3 linked regions of the Homo sapiens genome follow. The protein of the gene in region 1 purifies or fractionates together with the protein of each later gene. This does not show direct contact. Each region holds a gene or a part of one and is shown in the gene's direction. Other genes may lie near its edges.

Evidence for each region.
Region 2: the proteins of RAB40A (region 1) and PSME3IP1 purify together in Homo sapiens (affinity purification with mass spectrometry; 3 studies listed by BioGRID and IntAct, with this or other methods). This does not show direct contact.
Region 3: the proteins of RAB40A (region 1) and ISCA1 purify together in Homo sapiens (affinity purification with mass spectrometry; 3 studies listed by BioGRID and IntAct, with this or other methods). This does not show direct contact.

Annotation. Positions count from the first base shown.
Region 1 is NC_000023.11:103,498,630-103,505,395, reverse strand, and holds the end of RAB40A (ras-related protein Rab-40A), read left to right. Parts: intron 1-2,513; exon of another isoform or gene 2,514-2,637; intron 2,638-4,493; exon of another isoform or gene 4,494-4,569; 5' UTR 4,570-4,639; coding exon 4,640-5,473; 3' UTR 5,474-6,266; downstream 6,267-6,766.
Region 2 is NC_000016.10:57,161,825-57,169,039, reverse strand, and holds part of PSME3IP1 (PSME3-interacting protein), read left to right. Parts: intron 1-1,813; coding exon 1,814-1,947; intron 1,948-4,974; coding exon 4,975-5,039; intron 5,040-7,215. UniProt on the Homo sapiens protein: Promotes the association of the proteasome activator complex subunit PSME3 with the 20S proteasome and regulates its activity.
Region 3 is NC_000009.12:86,265,539-86,275,444, reverse strand, and holds part of ISCA1 (iron-sulfur cluster assembly 1 homolog, mitochondrial precursor), read left to right. Parts: intron 1-1,202; coding exon 1,203-1,256; intron 1,257-3,332; coding exon 3,333-3,438; intron 3,439-9,253; coding exon 9,254-9,402; 3' UTR 9,403-9,906. UniProt on the Homo sapiens protein: Involved in the maturation of mitochondrial 4Fe-4S proteins functioning late in the iron-sulfur cluster assembly pathway. Probably involved in the binding of an intermediate of Fe/S cluster assembly.

The DNA of each region.
Region 1 (6,766 bases):
TGCATACCTATGAGCCAGCAATTCCAATCTTTGATATACTCAACAGAATCGTGTACATATACCCACTAAAGACAGGCACAAAACTGTATGTAGTAGTACTATAACATTAGTCAAACTGTGGGCATAACCCAAATATCATCCAACAGATAACTTGTAGTATTCATAAAATGAAATACTCTACCACAATTAGAATGCTCATTTTAATGTTGCCATATGCAAAATCATGGATATATCTCACAAGGATAATATTAAGCAAAACAAAGCAGAAACAAAAAAGTATAATTTCAGGTAAATAAAATATGAAAAGTTCGTAAACAGGCAAATCTCTAGTGTTAGAAGTTAATGTAGTTTACTTTTGGAGGTATAATGACTTGTAAGGGCATAAAGGAAGCTCCTGAAGTGAAGATAATGTTCTATTTCTTTCCCTTTTTTACTAGTAAATTCTGCTTTTATTATTAAAAGTTCTTGTAAACATAAGTGTCTCTTCAATGATATAAAAATTTCCCCTTCTTTAAGATTAAATATAAAACATTAATTAAAATATTCAAGGCAATGAAGTTAAATTCTAATGCCTAGCTGGGTGTGGTGGCTCACGCCTGGAATCCCAGCACTTTGGGAGGCTGAGGCGGGTGGATCTCATGAGGCCAGGAGTTCAAGACCAGCCTGGCCAACATGGTGAAACCCCATCTCTACTAAAAATATAATAATTAGTCGGGTGTGGTGGCGCATGCCTATAATCCCAGGTACTCAGTACGCTGAGGCACGAGAATCGCTTGAACCTGGGAGGCGGAGGTTGCAGTGAGCTGAGATTGTACCACTGCACTCCAGCCTGGGCGTCAGAGCAAGACTGTCCAAAAAATAAAATAAAATAAAATAAAAATATATATATATTCTGATGCCTTTCTGTAGTCAATGAAATGGACCTGAAAGAAAGAGGCATAGTGAATTTTAAAAAATGATGTACCCAAACTTTGAAAAAATGTTGCTGTCTTCCAAAAAATAAGTTAGCTGAGATGTTTCTTCATTATAGGAGGCAGAATGTTCTTCTCTTTTAAGTTTCAGCTTTTATTTTAGATCCAGGGGGTACATGTGCAGGTTTGTTACATGGGTATATTGTGTGATGCTAAGGTTTGGGATATGAATGATCCCATCACCCAGGTAGTGAGCATAGTACCCAATAGTTTTTCAACCCTTGCCCCACCTCTCCCCACTCCTCCAGTAGGCCCCAGGGTTTGTTGTTGCTATCTTTACGTCCATGAGTCCCCAATGTTTAGTTTCCACTTATAAGTGAAAACATGTGGTATTTGGTTTTTTGTTCCTGTGTTAATTTACTTAGGATAATAGCCTCCAGATGCATCTATGTTGCTGCAAGGGACATTATATTGTTCTTTTTTATGGCTGTGACAAAATACTTTTGAACAGATTGTCAAAAGTACTGTGCACATGTTTATTAATTTGAGAAAGCATTCATTATATTCTATTTTATGGTGAAAACAGGAAATAATTTGACAGGGTATTTGCATGTGTGTGTGTGTCTAGGTCTAGCTGTATCACTCCAAATACACACTCACAGATGCAGCTTTACCTTTAATGCAGACAGGGGCTGGAGCCAATCTCAGTTTCACATATACCAGAACATGACTAATACACAGAGATTGCTATCGTTAGGTGAATAATTCCAGAAAACTCTGGCTAATATCTTTGTAGTTCACCTCCAACATCCCTCTCCCTTTCCCTGAGCCCCTTGTCTGAGACTCTCAAAGCTGTGATCCGGGTTCTGGCCATCAGGAGGCATCACAGCTATCTCCATTTTTTTTTTTTTTAAAGGAGGACATTTTGCAAAGAGTGACAAACTACGATGCCAGTTCTGTTTGAAAAATATACGTATATTAAAGCTGGTCCATTGGCTGTGGACTCCAAATCTACATGGCATTCACTGATTTATCTCTTCCCTCCTCAGTATACGTTGTCCCGTGCATGCTGTGGAGAGGTCCCTCACAGACAGCAGGGCATTTAGCCTCCATTGCCCGTGCATAAGCTTCCCAGACCTCCTCCCATTCCCTTTCAGTCCTCCCTTCTCTAGGATCCTATGGACACAGTTGCCCAGACCCTGCTCCTGTGACCTCTATCCTCTCTGTCACCTTTCTACAGCCCTGTCAGTGCTACCTGGTGTTTCATGCCCTGGCGCATATGTTTTTACAGTCTTGTTTTACATCTATCAATCAATTTTTTTCTTTCTAGCTTGGGAAGTGAATTTGGGTCTGCTCAGAGGCATGATGTTCAACAGCTTTTATTAGATTATGAGACATCCAAGAATGTAGAGAACATTCTGTCTCTAAAACTTTGAACTCAAGGCATATCAGAGAGAGATTTGCTTTCTTTATATGGATGTCTGTGTTCTCATTAGTAGAAACAATGAAAAATGACTTTTCACAATGCCTTCTTAGCCCAGAGGCTCAGCCAGCCCCCACTTCTGTGTCTCAGCATTTAAAGGGCCATTGAAGTCCCACTTCATGCCGTATACTCTCAACAGGTTTTCTCATTTGCTCCTTGGGACAGCTCGGTAAGGATGATACAGTCAGTTCTATCTCACAGATAATCAAGCTCAGGCTTTCAGAGCCTAAGTCACCTTCCCAGGTAAGTGGCAGGATTGGAATGAGGTTTCATCCCTCACCCTCCCTAAAGGACCCTGAGCACCCCCTTTTAGAAGATGGGCTTCCAGGGCTTGAGAAATGTCAGATTCCACTCCCCTGCTATTGTGGCCCCATGGGTCCCCCACTCCACAACCCCTCTGGGTGATGAGGAAGACAGAAGTGAAATCCTGCACTTTATGCCAAGAGACTGGGTGTGGGACCGTATGAGTTGGCTGATCCCTTAAGTGGTGAGTGGGCTCAGGCAGAAGCTTAGGTGTTGGCCTTGGGACAGGTGAGCTGAAGAGAAGGAAAGTAACCTGCACTGAACTACTTTAGGCAAATGCACTCTATATTTCATCTCCTTTATCCTAACGGCTGTTCAAGGTACCGATGATTATGATCATTATTCCAATCAGGGTGCTGTCTTTAAGGGAGTTTGTGTAAATCAGGGAGAGAACTTTATTATCTCCTTATTGTCAGCTAAATCTGGAATTAATCTAAAGGTTTTTTTTTTCTCTATTTGCCCTGAAGCCCACAGAGAAATAGAAATGTTTTTCTTATCCTTTATTCACGTTTGTTCTGTATTGATGAGTATTTAGAATGTTTCTCATTTTTTCCTTTTTAAAAAGATTTCAGCAATGCTATTTCAAATAACCACTTACCTGGCTATTTTGGACATGTGAAAATTTTTTCCTCCATTACATTTGTAAACATCTATCCCTTGGGGCTTGATTTCAATAATTTAAACTCCCTTATATGTGTATGAGCATTCTCATTTCTTTAACCATCTTTGTACCTGTTGTAGTTACAATATTTAAGTGTATTTATAACTGATAAGTGTGTTTCCATTTCCTTGATGTATTTGGTCCCTCATCCTGCCCCCATACACAGACACACACAGAGCCTTTTTCTTTTGCATCTTTTTCTTTTGCAAATTAAAAAAAAATTCTTTTTCGGTTTTTTTCTACATTTAAATTTTGTCAGATGATAGGTGATAAAAGGATATTTAGATGGTTTCATTAGCATTCTTTAATGTATTAGTGAGCTAGAATGCATTTTCTTGTGATTACTGGCCATTTGCGTTTCTTCACCTGTGAACCATATACATATTTTTTCAGTTTTGTTATTTTGTTATAGGAGCTGTACATGTGTTAAACCTAAAACCCTTCACTGATGGATGCATGCATTATTTCAACACATCTTTGTTGGGTGAATATTATTTATGAGACACTCTAGCAAAATCCATGTCCTAGATATCTCTTCTGAGATCTTGGCTCTTATATTTATGGGAGATGTCCCCCTGCAGCAAGAAAAGTATTAGTGCCCATGTAAACATGCGTGGCTTGTCAAGGATCACATGCACAGACAGTTCACACTTACTCCTAAACCCGGCATGGCCACAGAGTAGAAAGGGTGTGTAGTGCGTTATATGAGGAGAGCACTGGCTCAGGATTGTGATTTCTGTGATCTCTATATTAATGGCAATGTTTTAAAAAATTACATAACATTTCTGAGTTTGCCTTTTCTCATTTGTAAAATGGAAACAATTATAGCTACCAAAGACAACTGTTCTGAAAGCAAAAGAACAAAATATTTTAAGCGTCATACACAGCATAGGGTACGTACAGTACTCAACACATCTTAGTCCCTTTCCTATCCCATACCCGTCCTTCCTTTAAAGGAGATTCCTTTGACATAATCCAAAAGGCATGGTTCCATAACGATCACATGAAAGTTTTAAGGGAAATGTATAGGTTTCCATGATGAATTAACTGCTGTGTCACTACTCTGTGCTGGGTAAGAAAAAGGAAAACAATCGCTGAATCAGTTTCCTAGGGTTTGTAAAAGAAATCCATCAAAGCCACCACCTCATTTCGCTTTATTTCACAGACTTCCCCATCTCATTTTTTATGTTCTATGCTAATTTCTCAAGAAGAACAGGCCCGGCACCACCTCTGCGCACAACCCCGCGGGCCTGGCTCAGGCGGGAGTGCGGGGCCAGCACCATGAGCGCCCCGGGCAGCCCCGACCAGGCCTATGACTTCCTGCTCAAGTTCCTGCTGGTGGGCGACAGGGACGTAGGCAAGAGTGAGATCCTGGAGAGCCTGCAGGATGGTGCAGCTGAGTCCCCGTACAGCCATCTCGGGGGGATCGACTACAAGACGACCACCATCCTGCTGGACGGCCAGCGGGTGAAGCTGAAGCTCTGGGATACGTCGGGGCAGGGAAGATTTTGTACCATATTCCGCTCCTACTCTCGTGGTGCACAAGGAGTGATCCTGGTCTACGACATTGCAAACCGCTGGTCTTTCGAGGGTATGGATCGATGGATTAAGAAGATTGAGGAACATGCCCCTGGTGTCCCTAAAATCCTGGTGGGGAATCGCCTACATCTGGCATTCAAGAGGCAGGTGCCCAGGGAGCAGGCCCAGGCCTACGCCGAGCGCCTGGGTGTGACCTTCTTTGAGGTCAGCCCTCTGTGCAATTTCAACATCATAGAGTCTTTCACGGAGCTGGCCAGGATAGTGCTGCTGCGGCACAGGATGAATTGGCTCGGGAGGCCGAGCAAGGTACTGAGCTTGCAAGACCTCTGCTGCCGCACCATCGTGTCCTGCACACCTGTGCATCTGGTGGACAAGCTCCCGCTCCCCAGTACCTTAAGAAGCCACCTCAAGTCCTTCTCCATGGCTAAGGGCCTGAATGCCAGGATGATGCGAGGCCTCTCCTACTCCCTCACCACCAGCTCCACTCACAAGAGCAGCCTCTGCAAAGTGGAGATCGTCTGCCCACCCCAGAGCCCACCCAAAAACTGCACCAGAAACAGCTGCAAAATTTCTTAAGGAAGGCACCAAAAGGAAACAAGCTGGAATCGCTCCAGGAAAAACTCTGGTTACACCTGGAAGATGGAAGTCGCATTGTAGATTCAAGAAATTAGTTTTCAGTTTCTCACGGGAACCATGCTGCTTGGGAATGTGTGTGATGCCTTCTGTCAATAAAAACACATTACACAGTTTGACTTTGAATTTCTATTTGGATGTGCATGAAGCTCTTGTTTTAAACGTGTGTTTATAAAGGGGAAATTAGTACTTTGCTCAACTCTTGATAACGTGAAATTTTGAATGTTACTTATATCATAATCACGCTGCAACTTTTTCCTTAAAATAACCGCCTTTGTTAGAATGGTGATATGGCAATGATGAGTATAAATTCAAGGAAATTTGAGAAGCAATGATAGTGAGATAATTCAGTCATCGATAGTACAAGAGGGGCCTTTTTGTAAACCTCCTTTTTAATGTCAAAGCACCAATTTATAAAACACTGCAGATGCATATAGAGATTGTATATAACAGATCTGTCCAGCTTGTGCATGAAATGGATTTGATAAAGTTTTTGCTATGTTATTTACTACATTTGGGGATTAATACGTGATTTATATGTATGTTTTTCTGTAAATCTACTTTTTTTGTACGAGATGTTCTACAAGATATGAAGCTAAGGGAGGAAAACACCAAAGATATCTCTAGTTATGTTGAACATAGCCAATATGGTTTCAATGGATCAATAAGAAAAAACCATTTCAGTAAGGAATGAAATACGTACTTATTTGAGAAAATGTTTCTTAACAGTAAAAAAGTATATATTTTTCTCTTTGGTAAAACGAAAAGAGAGGAAAAATATGTATAGTGTAACCCCGCAAGATGAGGCTTTGCAGAAAAACAATGCAATAGAACATGGCGGGGCAGGCCCATTATAAGGCCTTAGGTGAGTCATTTCCCCTGTGCTGGCCAGTTTTGGTTAACACCTCTCAGATCAATATAGAGGTTAATGAGATCACATCTGGGAAAGCACTTCTGAGACCTTAGATGGGAAAGAAGGAGAAGTGGTTTCCACGTAGTTACTTTCCAATTTACACTGTTGATTATTATAATAATTGATATTGGATGAACTGAGTAAATATAAGTCCTTGTACTCTTTTGTAATTGAATGACCATTTATTTGTGCATTGTCATAGGGTGATTGTAACAAAGTCCCGCAGAAGGGCAGTATCTCTGGCCTCACGGAGCTGTGGGGACTCACCCTTCCTGAACGCTGGTACTTTTCTATCTCATGAATTTCCCACAACATTCCTGGGA
Region 2 (7,215 bases), on another chromosome or scaffold:
AAAGTTAAATGTTGGGTTTTGTCTATGTCGTGGTATAAATAATGTATAAATATATACATGCTTTTGTTGTGTTTTTTTTCCATTTTTGTTTTTTTTTAATATTTAATATTGAGAGTTTTGAGAACTTCTGTCTCCTAATGATGGAGTTGCAGATAAAAAATCACAACATGCTAATTTTTTTTTGGCATTCTCTCCTAGAAAGATGAAATCTTTTTTTTTTTTTTTTTTTTTTTTTTGAGACAGAGTTTCGCTCTTGTTACCCAGGCTGGAGTGCGGTGGCACGATCTCAGCTCACCACAATCTCTGCCTCCCGGGTTCAAGCGATTCTCCTGGCTCAGCCTCCCGACTAGCTGGGATTACAGGAATGTGCCACCACACCCAGCTAATTTTTTGTCTTTTTAGTAGAGACAGGGTTTCTCCATGCTGGTCAGGCTGGTCTTGAACTCCCGACCTCAGTTGATCTGCCCACCTCGGCCTCCCAAAGTGCTAGGATTACAGGCATGAGCCACTGTGCCTGGCCAATCTATTTTTTTTTAAATAAAAATGAGTATTAACATTATCTATTTCCATGATGACCCTAAAAACATTAAATTCATTAAACTCATAATAGTACTAAGCATTATATCTAATTTCCATTGCATACTGCAAATATTTAAGGTAACTTGTGCCCATAAGAACAGAGTTAGTTGCCTGGAGAGTGATTAGAATTAGAATCTTAGGATTTCTGGAAAATCTTAGGATTTTCTCCATTGTTCAAAGACACGTAGATAAATAACCTTAACCATACATCCTCTACTTCCACCCACCTTTTTGGGCTGATAATTCATGCTTCTTAGATTTCCTGGGCACTAGATGTCACTATTGTTCCAGGCACTAGTGCATCTTAAATAAGGACTTGCACTGTGTCAGAATACTTATCTGTTGTCTAAGACGTTTCAAGAGAGAGCATAAAACGGAGGGAGAAGTGGAGGGAGAGGAGGGAGGGCTGGTGGAGGGAACAAGTGAAAGTGACCTCCCCGACAAAAATATGGGGCCTTTCTTCACTTCAAAAGAGTAAAAAGTTGAGAGCCAGAGATTGGCATCAAGAACGAAAAACTGATGTTACAAGCGAACTGGTCATGCTTTTAAAAATAGCTTTTCAGTTCTTGTATATATGCACAGGATTTCTCATTAAAATCACCTTTGATTGTTTCTTGGCCTTTTGGCTAAGATCAAGTGTAAAATCACCTTCAGAGAGTGTTTAAAACAAACTCCCGGGCCTCTAGAGGTCTCATTCAGTAGGTTTGGGGCAGGGAGGGACTTGACATGTTTAATGAGCCTTGGGGTGATTCTGATGTTTCCTTGCACCAGTGGAGCAGGAGTTAGTCTTCGTGATGTCTAAGATTAATTGCCACTGATAGTCAGAACAACATTCTGCAAAATTTGATTTAACCCTTGAAGGGGGAAGCATGTTTTCAGGGAAGCCACATTTTTTTTTCTGTTTTCTTTATATTCCTTAAGATCTGTTTTCCTCATCAAGCATGATATTGGCCATGTCCTTGGTAATAGTGGGTTTTGTGGCTATGCTCAGATTTTCATTGAGAATCAGAGGAAAAGGTTGCTTATCTGTATTATTTTGGGCTTTATATGCTGTCTTCCTCCATGGTCTCTTTCATTTATCTTTGAATTGGCTGGATTTGACTGGCAGAATAAAGAAGGGTGGGGCATTTATTTAAATAAGTAGGCCAGACATTACATCGCACAGCCGAAGGGCTAGTGGGTTATATTTGTTGTCTTCCCTTTTGCTTAGTTTGACCCTTAACTGGTAACTCACAATAACCTCAAGAAGGTTGGAATTTCTCAAGAGAACAAGAAGGAAGTGGAAAAGAAACTGACTGTGAAGCCTATAGAAACCAAGAACAAGTTCTCCCAGGCGAAGCTGTTGGCAGGAGCTGTGAAGCATAAGAGGTTAGTCAGCACTCACACAACTCAGATTTCTCTCTGACCGTGTACTCTGAAACACCACTTGTAATGGAAGCCAGAGCCAACGCTTGCCTCGCGTGAGTCCTGGTGAAGTTCCCTTGGTGTGCTCACCTATCTCTCCCTTTCCAGATTTGAGGCCTTCTATAGGCTTTGACCCTCGTCTCTCTGATCACTTATTCAACAAATATAAATAATAGCTACTCTTCAGTGGGGATCTGCCACACCAGGCATTGTGTTAAGTGCTTCCTGTGCATAATCCCATGTATTCTTCAACAACCCTATGAAGTACAATTATAATCCCTGTTTTGTAGATGAGAAGACCAAGAGTTTGAGAGGTTGAGACCCTTCTTTGTGCAAGATCATAGAGAAACAGAGAGCTAGAGTTCATTATTTGGGCTTCTGTCTAGAAAAATGAGGTAGTGAGTCTTGTGAAAGGATCTGTGTAGGGTGTACTGAGAGCAAGGAGGAGGAGCATACAATGCTGCTGGGAGGGTGTTGTGTGCATCTTCATGTTGGGGAGGTTGGGGGAAACCATTGGAAAGATGCTGATTAGGTAGGACAACTAGGGCTTTGACAAGCAACAAGGGAGAGAACAGTCTAAGCAGAGGGAATAGCTGCTGCAAAGGCATCCTGTCCTGAAAGAACATGGCAGCCCTGGCAGGGTTACAGACCTGGCTGTGGCTAGGTTTGGATTGATGTGGAAGTGATAGCACTGTCTCAAGGCTATGATAAGTTCTTTGCTATGTTTGCTCCTCCCTTTCCAAATCCTGAAATGTCATCAGAGTGATTGAATCTGGTCATTTAGATTTGACCCAACAGACTGTGGGCGAAATGATAAGTTTAAGTGCAGTCTATTAGGAAAATCAATATGATATATTGGCAACCAGCCATATGTTTTGAAGGGAGTGTATTGATGCAGTCTTGTGGTTTGGCACACCACCCATCTGCTGCAGATGTTCTTAGGAACACTGCCTACATGTAAAAATGTCATGCTGGTATAGCAACAGAGGGGAGGAGTTATCCTGAGAAGGGCTCGCTACCCAAACCATGAATTATTCCTTTCAAGTTCTCACATAAGCTTTCCTGCAAGACTAGGGACTCGCAGGATTTGGACCTGGGTCAGTTTTACTGGAATATGCCAAGGGAGGGCTCTCCAGGTGATCAATTTGTTATCCCTTGAGACTGCTCTTGGTGGTCGCAGAATGGGTGTTGTAACTGTTTCCCTTAGTTCTTAGATCACCTTTAGAAAAGGCTCTGTAGTAGCGTATTTGGTGACCTGCATATAACCCCTTTTGGGTTTTGAAACAACATCATTTAATGTTTCTTTGTGTAGTAAGGTAGTCTCCTGGGGCAGGAGTTCCTAATCTGTCCGACCCTGAGTTTATTGGAATCACCTGGGAGTTTGTTAATAATTTATATTCGCAGGCCTTGCACTAATTCTGGTTCAGTAAGTTTGAAGTGAAGTCTGGGAGTCGTAGTTTTCAAAGTTCCATGAGTGATTCTGCTGCCTGGTGAAGGTCTGGAAGCCATTGGCATGTATATGTCATGAAGCATAAGACCAAAACAAGCAGCAATTTCTTACCTTCTTCAAAGGAATATTCTTTACTCTCTTCTAGTTTATTCTTTTATTTATTGTTAGAAAAAACTGTCAGATACCTAGTTCATGAATGTGCAGTCTTTTTAGTTATGAGCATCTGAAGCTATAAATTTTCCTTAACTTTCATTGTATATGAGTTTTATATTTCCTTCTAAGTATTTTAAAATATCCATTATGATTTCTTCTTTGACTCAGGAATTATTTAGAAATGTATTTTTTAAATCTCCATATTGAGGTAACAACCATATTTCAGTGAGGGGAAAGATAAGCCTTCCCCCTCGCCACACACGTTTTAACACCTTATGATGATATATATATATATATATAACAGTGTCTTAGAGGCTGCAAAATATGTTTCTCTTTTGTCATTGATTTCCAACTTAATTGCATGTGGTTTTGTATACTCTGATTCTCTTTTCTTTTTCTTTTCTTTTTCTTTTTCTTTTTTTTTTTTTGAGCTGGAGTTTCACTCTTGTCGCCCAGGCTGGAGTGCAATGGCGCAATCTTGGCACACCTGTGCCTCCCGGGTTCAAGCGATTCTCATGCCTCAGCCTCCCAAGTAGCTGGGATTACAGGCATGCACCACCTTGCCTGGCTAATTTTGTATTTTTTGTAGAGACAGGGTTTCACCATGTTGGCCAGGCTGGTGTCAAACACCTGACCTCAGGTGATCCGTCCGTCTTGGCCTCCCAACGTGCTGGGATTACAGGCGTCAGCCACCGCACCCGGGCCTCCCACATAAGTCTTAAATGGAACCTGCTGTGTACTCCCTGCAAGAAAATACCAACTAGTACATACACACAGTAATGTCCCCAGTCTTAGAGGTGACTTCAGTATGGTCTGTTGAACACCACAAACTAGACATTATTTTTTGATACAGTATTTGTTTAGATTTATATTTGTATTTGCCAGTTTATTTGTTCACCACCCCTTCCTTCTGGGGTCCCTTCCTTCTGGGATCATTTCTTTCTTCATTGAAATACATTCCTTATACATTGTTTTAGTGAAAATCTTGTGGGTGACTCTCAGAATCTCTAGCATGTCACTAAAGATGTTTTCTTCAATCTGTAATTACTAAATGTTTGTCATTTATGAACATGTCTAAATATTCTTGAAATCCATCTGTGGTTCTAACCAATTTGAGTGATAAAGACGGCCAAGAATCTGAAGTTGAAGTGATGGTTGATACAGTGCTTTATTTCCTGGATTTGTCAGGAGTTTAAATTGTCTTTATGACTGATGATGCAATTGGAAGGAGATTAAGAATCTGAAATGAATACTTTTCATTCATTTTTATCATCCCAGCCTCTTGAGACTGCCTAAGACCCATATAAATAGTTATTGGAGCTCCTGATTCCCTAAGCTTTGATCCACAAGATTGGACATGGCTCAAGTCACCATGTGTTTTGTTACAGCTCAGAGAGTGGCAACAGTGTGAAAAGACTGAAACCGGACCCTGAGCCAGATGACAAGAATCAAGGTGGGTGGCAGCCTTCATTACTTCCTTGTACTCAGAATACACATGAACCACAGTAAAGGGCTGTAATGCATTGCTTCTGCAAATGAATGCATTTCTGTCTTCAAGCAAGCCTACCTATGCTTAATTTACCCAACTTTTTTATGCCAGGCAGGATTTTATTACCAGGCCAGAGTTTATACCAGGCAGGATTTTATACCTGCAAAAGTTATTATATTAGAAACCAGTGAAACTGATCAATGAAAATAGTACTCTCCCAGGAGTGCTTACCAGGCCCTGGTCATACCACCTCTGCTCACAAAAGGTGTTTTTCTGTTTCCCCCAAATGTCAGGTTTCTTGATTTCACCTGGTTTGCTACCAGTGGGAGGTAAATACCTGGCTCCTGCTCATTGTTGTACTGGATTGAGCCTAGAAGCTTAATACAATCTCAAGGAGTATACTTCTTTGGTTTTTACTTTTATGTGATGAAATCTGCCTCTGTATTAAGAGGCAAGAACTTGTAAGTGAAGGTGAATGTTACTGGGGCTGGATTAGGGATGAGAAATTCGAGTGTGTTTTCAGTTTTATTCTAACTCCATGTGGGATTGAGACTCTGAACTAAATTCCATCGATCAACAGGGCTTACATTAATTTCTCTCAAAAAAAGATGATGCTTTTTAATATGCATCTACTAAGCACCAGTGGTGGTGGTCTGTTGCTGTTACCCTTTTGGTCTAGAACCTACTTTTAAAAAGAAGAGTCTGGGGGAAAAAAAAAGGAGCCTGCCTTTTACCCGTATCTCTTCCATCTAGTTCTCCTTAGAGGGAAACAGAATTATACTTTTTTTTTTCTTTTTTTTGAGATGGAGTCTCACTCTGTCACCCAGGCTGGAGTGCAGTGGCTCAATCTCAGCTCACTGCAACCTCCGCCTCCTGGGCTCAAGTAATTCTCCTGCCTCACCCTCCCGAGTATTTGGGATTACAGGCGTGCGCCACCACACCTGGCTAATTTTTGTATTTTTAGTAGAGACAGGATTTCACCATGTTGGCCAGGCTGGTCTTGCACTCCTGACCTCAAGTGATCTGCCTGCCTCGGCCTCCCAAAGTGCTGGGATTACAGGAGTGAGCCACCAAGCCCAGCCACATTTCTTATGTAGCCATCAAGAGCTATTCTATGCATGTGCAAGCAATTGTAAATATGTATCTTTTAAATGCTTTATTATGGATAATTTAAGCAATATTCAGAAGTTGGAATAAGTATAATAAACCCCCATTACCAAGCTTCACTGATTTTTTTTTTTTCTTTGTAAGGTATCTCCTACAGGAAAGACCGTCAACAATTTTTTTTTTTTTTTTTTTTGAGACAGGGTCTTGCTCTATCACCCAAGATAGAGTGTAGTGGGGTTATCTTGGCTCATTGCAGCCTCTGCCTTCCTGGTTTAAGCAATTTTCATGCCTCAACCACCCAGGTAGCTAGGACTACAGGCATGTGCCACCACGCCCAGCTAATTTTTGTATTTTTAGTAGAGACGGGATTTCGCCATGTTGGCCAGGCTGGTCTCGAACTCCTAGCCTCAAGTGATCCACCTGCCTCGGCCTCCCAAAGTGCTGGGATTACAGGTGTGAGCCACCACACCCAGTCAGCAGTTTTTAACACATAGCCAATTTTATTTCATTTATATCTCTCAACTGTAATATTTTGTGACAATTCCAGACATTATATCATTTCATTCATAATTCTTAATATATGTCTCTAGCAAATACAAGTTCTTATTTTGTTTCTTTGTTTTAACAATTACAGTACCATTATATTAATAATCACAGGCCAGGCGCAGTGGCTCATGCCTATAATCCCAACACTTTGGGAGGCTGAGGCAGGCAGATCACCTGAGGTTGGGAGTTTGTGACCAGCCTGACCAACATGGAGAAACCCTGTCTCTACTAAAAATACAAAATTAGTCGGGCTGCTGGCTATGCCTGTAATCCCAGCTCCTCAGGAGGCTGAGGCGGAAGAATCGTTTGAACCTGGGAGGCAGAGGTTGCGGTGAGCCGAGATTGCACCATTGCTCTCCAGCCTGGGCAACAAGAGCGAGACTCTGTCTCAAAAATAATAATAATAATAATCACAGTAATTACCAAATATTATCGAATATTAAGTTAGTATTTTCTCCAATTGTCTCAAAAAAGTTTTTTCTTTTTA
Region 3 (9,906 bases), on another chromosome or scaffold:
CATCCATTGGGCTGGCTCTTCCAGGTGTCAGTCCTGGCCTCAGTTTACTACCAAGTCTTAGGTCGTAATATCCAGACTTTGAGACTTCACAAGCAGTCTCAAAGACTTTACTGTACAGTAAAATGTCAGTACAAGGGACTGGAGGGCCTGCAGAGCACTGCCAGCTAGAGGAGCTGATAAAGTAGGAAGGACGCACATAATGTCTTCATTATGATGTACTCTCATAATCATAATAATACTTGGTATTTTTGTGCCTGGCACTGTCCTGAATGCTTTCCATGAGTTTAAATATTTAATCCTCACAAGAATCAGGAGGAGGAGGAACTGTTATCCCTGTTTCACCAGTAAGGGAATAGAAGTCAGAGAAGCCACTTAGGGTGACTGCCCTGGAGGCACAGCTAGGAAGTGGGCCAGGAATGTCGGGGAACAGTCTCCTTCCCAAAGAAGTGGGGTTGGCAACACCGACCTATTTCACACAAACTGTGATGTTTTTCTCATTTTGAGGCCCGCTGAGCTATGTTAAAACAGCATTTCTCTGGGAAACAGCTCCTCCTTGTTCTTATTTCTGTCATTGACTAGCTTAGTTTTGTTCATCTAGATCTCCTGAGATGTTGGTTTAATCCACGTTGAAAAAAATCTATGTGAGCATTTGGTGGGACTGGTGCAAGAAGCACACCCTGGGTTATTTTATGCTGGTAACACTGTTTCCTCAAGCTATGCATTTTGATGGATTAGAAATGGATTGTGAGTAAGAAAAAAAAAAGCAGTAGGATTAATAATCAACAGGAAAAACACCTGAAGGTTGGCCTTCCCAGTGAGATACTTGATTCCTTCATTGGCTCTTTGTCGTAGGCAACATGCTGGTTCCTGGGCATAGAGTTGGTGCACAAAATAGATGCTGCCCAGAAAAATAGCATTTGTAATGTGAGTGAATAGCACCATAGAGAGAAGGACAGGGAACCAACCTGGACTGAGGAGCAAGATTAAAAGGATGTTGCTAGCAGATTTTTTTTTTAAATAAAGAGGATATTTTGAATTAGGTATAGTTTATGTGTTTCTATATAAAGTCCATAAGGTACCCTGGCAAGAATGGAACATAAATTTGTCACATGAATTTGCTAAAGACAGACTTACGAAGACTGATAAATATGAGGCTTTGAATAACAAGTTTTGTAGCTAAAAACATCATTTTCTTTTTTCAGACACCTTCAGCAGTAAACAAGATAAAACAACTTCTTAAAGATAAGCCTGAGCATGTAAGTAAAACCAGTTAATTATTCAGTAAAAAACTGAAGCTGCATTTTCAGAATGAATTTATCCCATGATATACAGTATTATTTCATTTAGGGGTTTTTATTTAAAATGTAAAATATACTCAGGATTTTTAAAAAATTCAAATAATACAAAAGGGTATTTAACTAAAAGGAAGTCATTCTTTCAACCTGACTCTTCGTCGTCATTCTTCCTTCCAAGAAGCAATCTCTTTGGTATCCTTCCAGGGATAATGTATACATTTGAAGCGGCTAGACCTGATTTTCTCAGCCTCCTCACAGTTGACACTTTAGGGCAGATTGTAGAATGTTTGACAGCATCTGTGGCCTCTGTCCATTAGATACCAGTAGTACCCCCTCTTTGCCTCAACCAAAGAATCCACATATGTGGAACCCACCGATACGGAGAGGTGACTGTATAGAGTAAAAGTATGGTGAGTACTATTTCACCAGCAGTTCCTGATTCCACAAAGCTTTGGTTGTCACAACCAAAAATGTCTCCCTGAGGGCAACCACTGGCCTAGACTGGGCTTGTTATTCCTGTGTATATCTCTTCCTACCATAAATTTTTTTGTTACACTTTGCTTTTTACCCTTAATAATGGCTTGAAGATCTTTCCATGTCATTATGTAATGATCTGCCTCCCTTTCTTGGCTGCATGTAGAGTATATTCCATTGAACAAGTTTGAGTTCTTTAACCAGTCCCCATATTAAAGGGTCGTTTTCATTCAGTGCTGCCGCAAACACCATTCAGCAACTATTTAGTGTCTGCAGTGTGCCAGGCTCATTGTTCTAGAACTGTAAGCATGGCTTAGTCCACCTACATAGGATCCATTCCTAGATACAGAATTGTTGAGTTAGGGATGTGTGTATCATCTTAATTGTACATTGTTAGTTGCCGATGGAATGCTGTAAATCATTTCAAGTAATGGATTGCAATATTTAATAATTAGACGGTGGGGTGATTTCTGGTTTCTGTTGTTAACCTACTACATTACAATGTAATGGAAGTTCTCAAACCTACCTTTTAAAATTATTAAATTTCAAAGGATATCAGTGTTCTGATTCAATTTGGATAGACCGATGAGTAGACTACAAATTGGCCTAATGAAACAAGAATTCGGCTTTGTAGAATCAGGAACTGCTGGTGAAATAGTACTTATGATACTTTTGCTGTATACAGTCACCTCTCCGTATCTGTGGGTTCCGCATACGTGGATTCAATCAACCATAGGTCAGAAATATTTGGGAAAAAAATAGAAGGTTGCATCTGTATTAAACATGTACAGACTTTCATTCTCTAAACAATACAGTATAACAACTGTTTATGTAGCATTACATTGTTACAGGTATTCAAGTCCTCCAGAAGTTATTTAAAGTACAGGGGAAGATGTATATAGGTTATATACAAATGCAGTGCCATTTGCATAAGGGACTTGAGTATCTGCAGATTTTTGTATACTCAGTTAGTCCTGGAACCAATTTCCCATGCATACTAAGGGATGACTGTATTTAAATGAAAAATCAGCTCAGCTCTAAGACAGAGAACTTAGGTAGATACTGTTTGAAAATTGCATTAATGTAAACATTGATACTTTTAAAGTGCTGTTTGGTCACTTTTTTAAACTTCTTTTGTCTGTATTGACTGCAGTCTTTTGCTTTCTGGTATTTGAGACTGTACACAAGTCTGCACTATAATTCAGATCCCATGTAGAGGTAGGATTGCCAGATGGTGGACTATGAACCCTGGTGAATCCTAACCATAAGGAAACATTCAGAGGATATCTCACAGAACAAGGTAGAGCAAAGACATTTTAAATAAAGTCCCAGGCTGGACGGGGTGGCTCCTGCCTTGTAATCCCAATGCTTTGAGAGGCCGAGGTGGAAGCGTTATTTGAGTCCACGAGTTTGAGACCAGTCTGGGCTACATAGTGAGACCCTGTCCTACAAAAAATAAGAGAAAGTCCATTTTGGTACGAGGAGGCTACTGTCACTTTATTAGTATAATTGTTTAATCTGTACTACTTTAAAACCAAGTTTATATTTTCACTTCTTTTTCAGGTAGGTGTAAAAGTTGGTGTCCGAACCAGGGGCTGTAATGGCCTTTCTTATACTCTAGAATATACAAAGACAAAAGGAGATTCTGATGAAGAAGTTATTCAAGATGGTGAGTTTTTAACAAACATTTTTTGGGCACATTGTTTTGCCTAAAATTATTAGCCTTGCACAGCACAAAGTAAAAAATAAGGATAGTAGCAGGAATTATGTAAATAATGCTCACTGTGTGTGTAGGTGTTGTTTGATGGAATTTCATGTATTAACTGATTTATACACAATGCTGAATGTGGGTGGTACCATATTATCCCTGTTTTTCTGATGAAGAAACTGAGGCACAGAGGGGTTAAATAGTTTAAGGTCATAATAAGTGGCCTAGTAAAATTCTTTCCAGAGACTGCTCTTAGTAACTAATTGATAAATTATTATATAAGCTTGTTTTAACTATGAAAGATCATCGTTGTGTCCAAAAAGTGAACCAGCCTTAAACCTCACAGTGAACCAACAGTTTTTGTGTAAGCAGTAGTTTTATATCTGTGTCAAATAAGTACGAGTTGAGCATTCCAATCCAAAAATCTGAAATCTGAAATGCTCCCAAATTCAAAACTTTAAAAGTGGGTGCTGACATGACACTCAGAGGAAATGCTCATTGGAGCTTTTTGGATTTGGGATGCTCAAGCAGTAAGTATAATGCAGATACAGTCATACATCACTTAACATTGGAGATACATTCTGAGAAATGTGACGTTAGACAAATATCCTGGGGTGTACTTAGACAAACCTAGACGGTCTGAGAAATGTGACATTGGACAAATATCCTGGGGTGTACTTACACAAACCTAGATGGTAGAGCCTACCATATGCCTCAGCTAGATAATATAACCTGTTGCTCCTAGGCTACAAACCTGTACTGCACGTGACTGTGCTGAATACTGTGCACAGTTCTGACACAATGGTAAGTATTTGTGTAAACGTACCTAAACAAAGAAAAAGTATAGTGAAATTTCTTTTATTATTATTATTATTATTATACTTTAAGTTTTAGGGTACATGTGCACAATGTGCAGCTTAGTTACATATGTATACATGTGCCATGCTGGTGTGCTGCACCCATTAACTCATCATTTAGCATTAGGTATATCTCCTAATGCTATCCCTCCCCCCTCCCCCCGCCCCACAACAGTCCCCAGAGTGTGATGTTCCCTTCCTGTGTCCATGTGTTCTCATTGTTCAATTCCCATCTATGAGTGAGAACATGTGGTGTTTGGTTTTTTGTCCTTGCGATAGTTTACTGAGAATGATGATTTCCAATTTCATCCATGTCCCTACAAAGGACATGAACTCATCATTTTTTATGGCTGCATAGTATTCCATGGTGTATATGTGCCACATTTTCTTAATCCAGTCTATCACTGTTGGACATTTGGGTTGGTTCCAAGTCTTTGCTATTGTGAATAGTGCCACAGTAAACATACGTGTGCATGTGTCTTTATAGCAGCATGATTTGTAGTCCTTTGGGTATATACCCAGTAATGGGATGGCTGGGTCAAATGGTATTTCTAGTTCTAGATCCCTGAGGAATCGCCACACTGACTTCCACAATGGTTGAACTAGTTTACAGTCCCACCACCAGTGTAAAAGTGTTCCTATTTCTCCACATCCTCTCCAGCACCTGTTGTTTCCTGACTTTTTAATGATTGCCATTCTAACTGGTGTGAGATGGTATCTCATTGTGGTTTTGATTTGCATTTCTCTGATGGCCAGTGATGACGAGCATTTTTTCATGTGTCTTTTGGCTGCATAAATGTCTTCTTTTGAGAAGTGTCTGTTCATGTCCTTTGCCCACTTTTTGATGGGGTTGTTTGTTTTTTTCTTGTAAATTTGTTTGAGTTCATTGTAGATTCTGGATATTAGCCCTTTGTCAGATGAGTAGGTTGTGAAAATTTTCTCCCATTTTGTAGGTTGCCTGTTCACTCTGATGGTAGTTTCTTTTGCTGTGCAGAAGCTCTTTAGTTTAATTAGATCCCATTTGTCAATTTTGGCTTCTGTTGCCATTGCTTTTGGTGTTTTAGACATGAAGTCCTTTCCCATGCCTATGTCCTGAATGGTAATGCCTAGGTTTTCTTCTAGGGTTTTTATGGTTTTAGGTCTAACGTTTAAGTCTTTAATCCATCTTGAATTAATTTTGGTATAAGGTGTAAGGAAGGGATCCACTTTCAGCTTTCTGCATATGGCTAGCCAGTTTTCCCAGCACCATTTATTAAATAGAGAATCCTTTCCCCATTGCTTGTTTTTGTCAGGTTTGTCAAAGATCAGATAGTTGTAGATATGCGGCGTTATTTCTGAGGGCTCTGTTCTGTTCCATTGATCTATATCTCTGTTTTGGTACCAGTACCATGCTGTTTTGGTTACTGTAGCCTTGTAGTATAGTTTGAAGTCAAGTAGCGTGATGCCTCCAGCTTTGTTCTTTTGGCTTAGGATTGACTTGGCGATGCGGGTTTTTTTTTTGGTTCCATATGAACTTTAAAGTAGTTTTTTCCAATTCTGTGAAGAAAGTCATTGGTAGCTTGATGGGGATGGCATTGAATCTATAAATTACCTTGGGCAGTATGGCCATTTTCACGATATTGATTCTTCCTACCCATGAGCATGGAATGTTCTTCCATTTGTTTGTATCCTTTTTTATTTCATTGAGCAGTGGTTTGTAGTTCTCCTTGAAGAGGTCCTTCACGTCCTTTTTAAGTTGGATTCCTAAGTATTTTATTCTCTTTGAAGCAATTGTGAATGGGAGTTCACTCATGATTTGACTCTCTGTTTGTCTGTTATTGGTGTATAAGAATGCTTGTGATTTTTGTGCATTGATTTTGTATCCTGAGACTTTGCTGAAGTTGCTTATCAGCTTAAGAAAATTTTGTAAAAGATCAAATGTGGTCGGGTGTGTTAACACAAGCCTGTTGTCCCAGCTACTCAGGAGACTGAGGCAGGAGGATTCCTTGAGTGTAGGAGTTCAAGAATGTAGTGCACTGGCCAGGCGTGGTGGCTCACCTGTGTAATCCCAGCACTTTGGGAGGCCGAGGTGGGTGGATCATGAGGTCAGGAGTTCACGACCAGCCTGGCCAACATGGTGAAACCCCATCTCTACTAAAAATACAAAAAATTAACTGGGTGTGGTGGCACACGCCTGTAGTCCCAGCTACTGGGAGGCTGAGGCAGGAGAATCGCTTGAACCCCAGGAGGCGGAGGTTGCAGTGAGCCGAGACCATGCCATTGCACTCCAACCTGGGTGAAAAAGTGAGACTCTGTCTCAAAAAAGAAAAAAAGACATCATAGTGCACTGTGTTCTTACCTGTGAATAGCCACTGCCCTTAAGCCTGGGCAACATAGCGAGACCTCCATCTCTTAAAAAAAAGAAAAAAAAAGGAAGAAGAAGAAGAAAATAAAACATGGTACACCTGTTTGTGGCAGTTACCATGCATGGAACTTGCAGGACTGGAAGTTGTCCGCGTGAGTCAGTGAGTGAGTAGGGAGTGATAAGTGAATGTGAAAGCCTAGGACGTTCCTCCGTAGTACTATAGACCTTATAAACCTTGTACACTTAGTCTTCAATAATAAATTAACCTTAGTTTACTGAAACTTTTTTACTTTGTAAGCTTTGGGGTTTTTTTTTTTTTTTTTGACTCTTTTGTGATAACATTAGCTTTGAAACACATTGTACAAATAACAAAAATTTTTTACGTTCTTATTCTATAAGCTTTTCTCTATTTTTAATTTTTTCTTTATAAACATTTTAATTAAAAACTAAGACAAAAACACACGTATTAACTTAGGCCTCCACAGGGTCAGGTTCATCAATATCCCTGTCTTCCACCACCTCCCCTCATCCCATTGGAAGGCCGTCAGGGGCAGTAACACTCATGGAGTTGTCATCTTCTGTGATAATGATGCCTTCTTCTGGATACCTCCTGAAGAACCTGCCTCAGGCTGTTTCACGGTTAACTTTTTTTTTTATAAGTAGAAGTACACTCTAAAATTTTAAACAATAAAAAGTATAGTAAATACATAAAGCAGTAACATAACCATTTATTATCATTATCAAGTATTATGTAGTGTACATAATTGAACATGCTTAGACTTTTATATGACTGGCAGTATAGGTTTGTTTACACCAGCATCACCACAAACACCTGAGTAATGGGTTGTCTTGTGATATTATGGTGGCTACAGCATTGCTAGGCAATGGGAATTTTCAGCTCCATTATAATCCTTTTTTTTTTTTTTTTTTTAATTTGAGATGGTCTCGCTCTCTCACCCAGGCTGGAGTGCAGTGGTGTGATCTCGGCTTGCTGCAACCTCCACCTCCCTGGTTCAAGCGATCCTCCCACCTCAGCCTCCCAAGTAGCTGGGATTATAGGCGCCCACCACCATGCCTGGTTCATTTTTGTATTTTTAGTGGAGCTGTATTATCAACTCATGTTTTTGAGGAATCCTGTATTTCCAATTTTTATTCAAAGCTATTTATTATAATTTAATTTATAATTAAAATTAATTATATTTGCTGCTGCCCCCTTCTTCCACCCTATAATCTGTTAAAACCTATCTAAAATAAATAATTTATCTTGTCATTGGAAGTATGCACTTAGCTTGCAGTTCTTACCTACATGGGAGAATGAGGCCTAGATTCCTAAGTGTGCTTTCTTATTAAACTAAAGTTATAACTATCAATAAAGACCTTTTAAAAATGTATTATTTTAAAAATTATAACACATTATAAACCTTAAGATTTTCATCTTAAAGAAGAGGTGACTTAATTATATATTGTTTATATTTAGCTAATGGCTCAATTTCTTGTAAGGAAGAAAGTTTTTTTGTTGTTTCGTTGTTTTGTTTGTTTGTTGAGACAGAGTCTTGCTCTCTTACCCAGGCTGGAGTGCAGTGGCACAATCATGGTTCACTGTAGCCTCTGTCTCCCGGGCTCAAGCAGTCCTCCCACCTCAGCCTCCCGAGTAGCTGGGACTACAGGTGCCCACCACTGTGCCCGGCTAATTTTTGTATTTTTAGTGGAGCCAGGGTTTTGCCCTGTTTCCCAGACTAGAAAGCTTTCTTAAATTGATTGTATTTGTTGGCTGGGCACTGTGGCTCACACCTGTAATCCCAGCACTTTGGGAGGCCGAGGTGGGAGGATCACTTGAGCCCAGGAATGCAAGACCAGCTTGGGCCACGTGGTGAAACCCTGACTCTAAAAAAATTAGTTGGTCCTGGTGGTATGTGCCTGTAATCCTGTGGGAGGATCGCTTGAGCCTGGGAGGTGGAGCTTGTGGTGAGCCATGATCATACCACTGCACTCCAGCCGGGGTGACAGAGTGAGACTCTGTCCAAAAAAAAAAAGATTGTATTTACAAAGATGCTGACCTCTACCTGTGTAATTACTAGGGAATAGTACCTGTTTTCCGTCCTGTAACCAGAAAAGACTATTGTTGTACTGATTGATGTTATTAAAATAGCCCCATTGTATCACAGTCCTTTGTACATCTTTAAGCTTGAATCCGTGTATCTAGTGTATTGCAGAATTTTCATAAATTTTTTTTTATTTCATAAAACTCATCGAGAATATACATTTTCTTCATGTTGCAAACTGGAAAAATGAGTGAAGTATAGTGAAAGGTAAATTCTAATTTTGCATAAAATTGTCATGGAATTTACTTGTATAAAATTCTCCCCTAATGTGATTGTGACATAAATTCATGTGTGGGAAAGAAGGGGCAGACAGGAAACTGAATGCTTAATTCCTTAAGGAAATAATTTAAAATGTTCAAGGCTTCTTGTTTGACTTTCATTGATAGTCACTATTTCAAGTTCACTTGTGCTTTGAATCAGCAAGTTCCATAAGGCTGCAGGCTTTCCATGACACATGTTTTCTTTTCTCCAAGGAGTCAGAGTATTCATCGAAAAGAAAGCACAGCTAACACTTTTAGGAACAGAAATGGACTATGTTGAAGACAAATTATCCAGTGAGTTTGTGTTCAATAACCCAAACATCAAAGGGACTTGTGGCTGTGGAGAAAGCTTTAATATTTGAAATCTCAGGACTCTTCTGGCCGTAGGTTCCAGGAAAGCTCGTGGAAGCTTTGGGGCTCACTGCAGAAATCATGTGACTGTCACGTGCTGGAAAATAAAGTGATACATCTTGAAAATGAATCCAGTGTGTTGGATTCCAGAAGAAATGATATTTATATTCTCTATAGGGGACAGAAAATGAGAAGCCATCACTCTTTTTGGATCATTTAGGTCTCTTGTATCCTTTGTTTTAGAACCAGTTTCATTAAAGTTGCCTTCCTGGGCACCTGTTTATCCATTTCCTGAACTGTGTGCACTCCTTAGATCGCTATTGATGGCTTGATCATCCCTCAGCATTTCTCCCAACCAGATCGGTGACTCCTAAAATCTGAGACAGGACATCGTGACTGCTGGTAGTAATATGGTGGTGCATTGTTTTTTCCACCCAAACTTAACATAGCCTTTTTATACATTTTTATGAAAAATTTCATTGTCAGCTGCCTCACTGCATACTCTTTAATAGTAC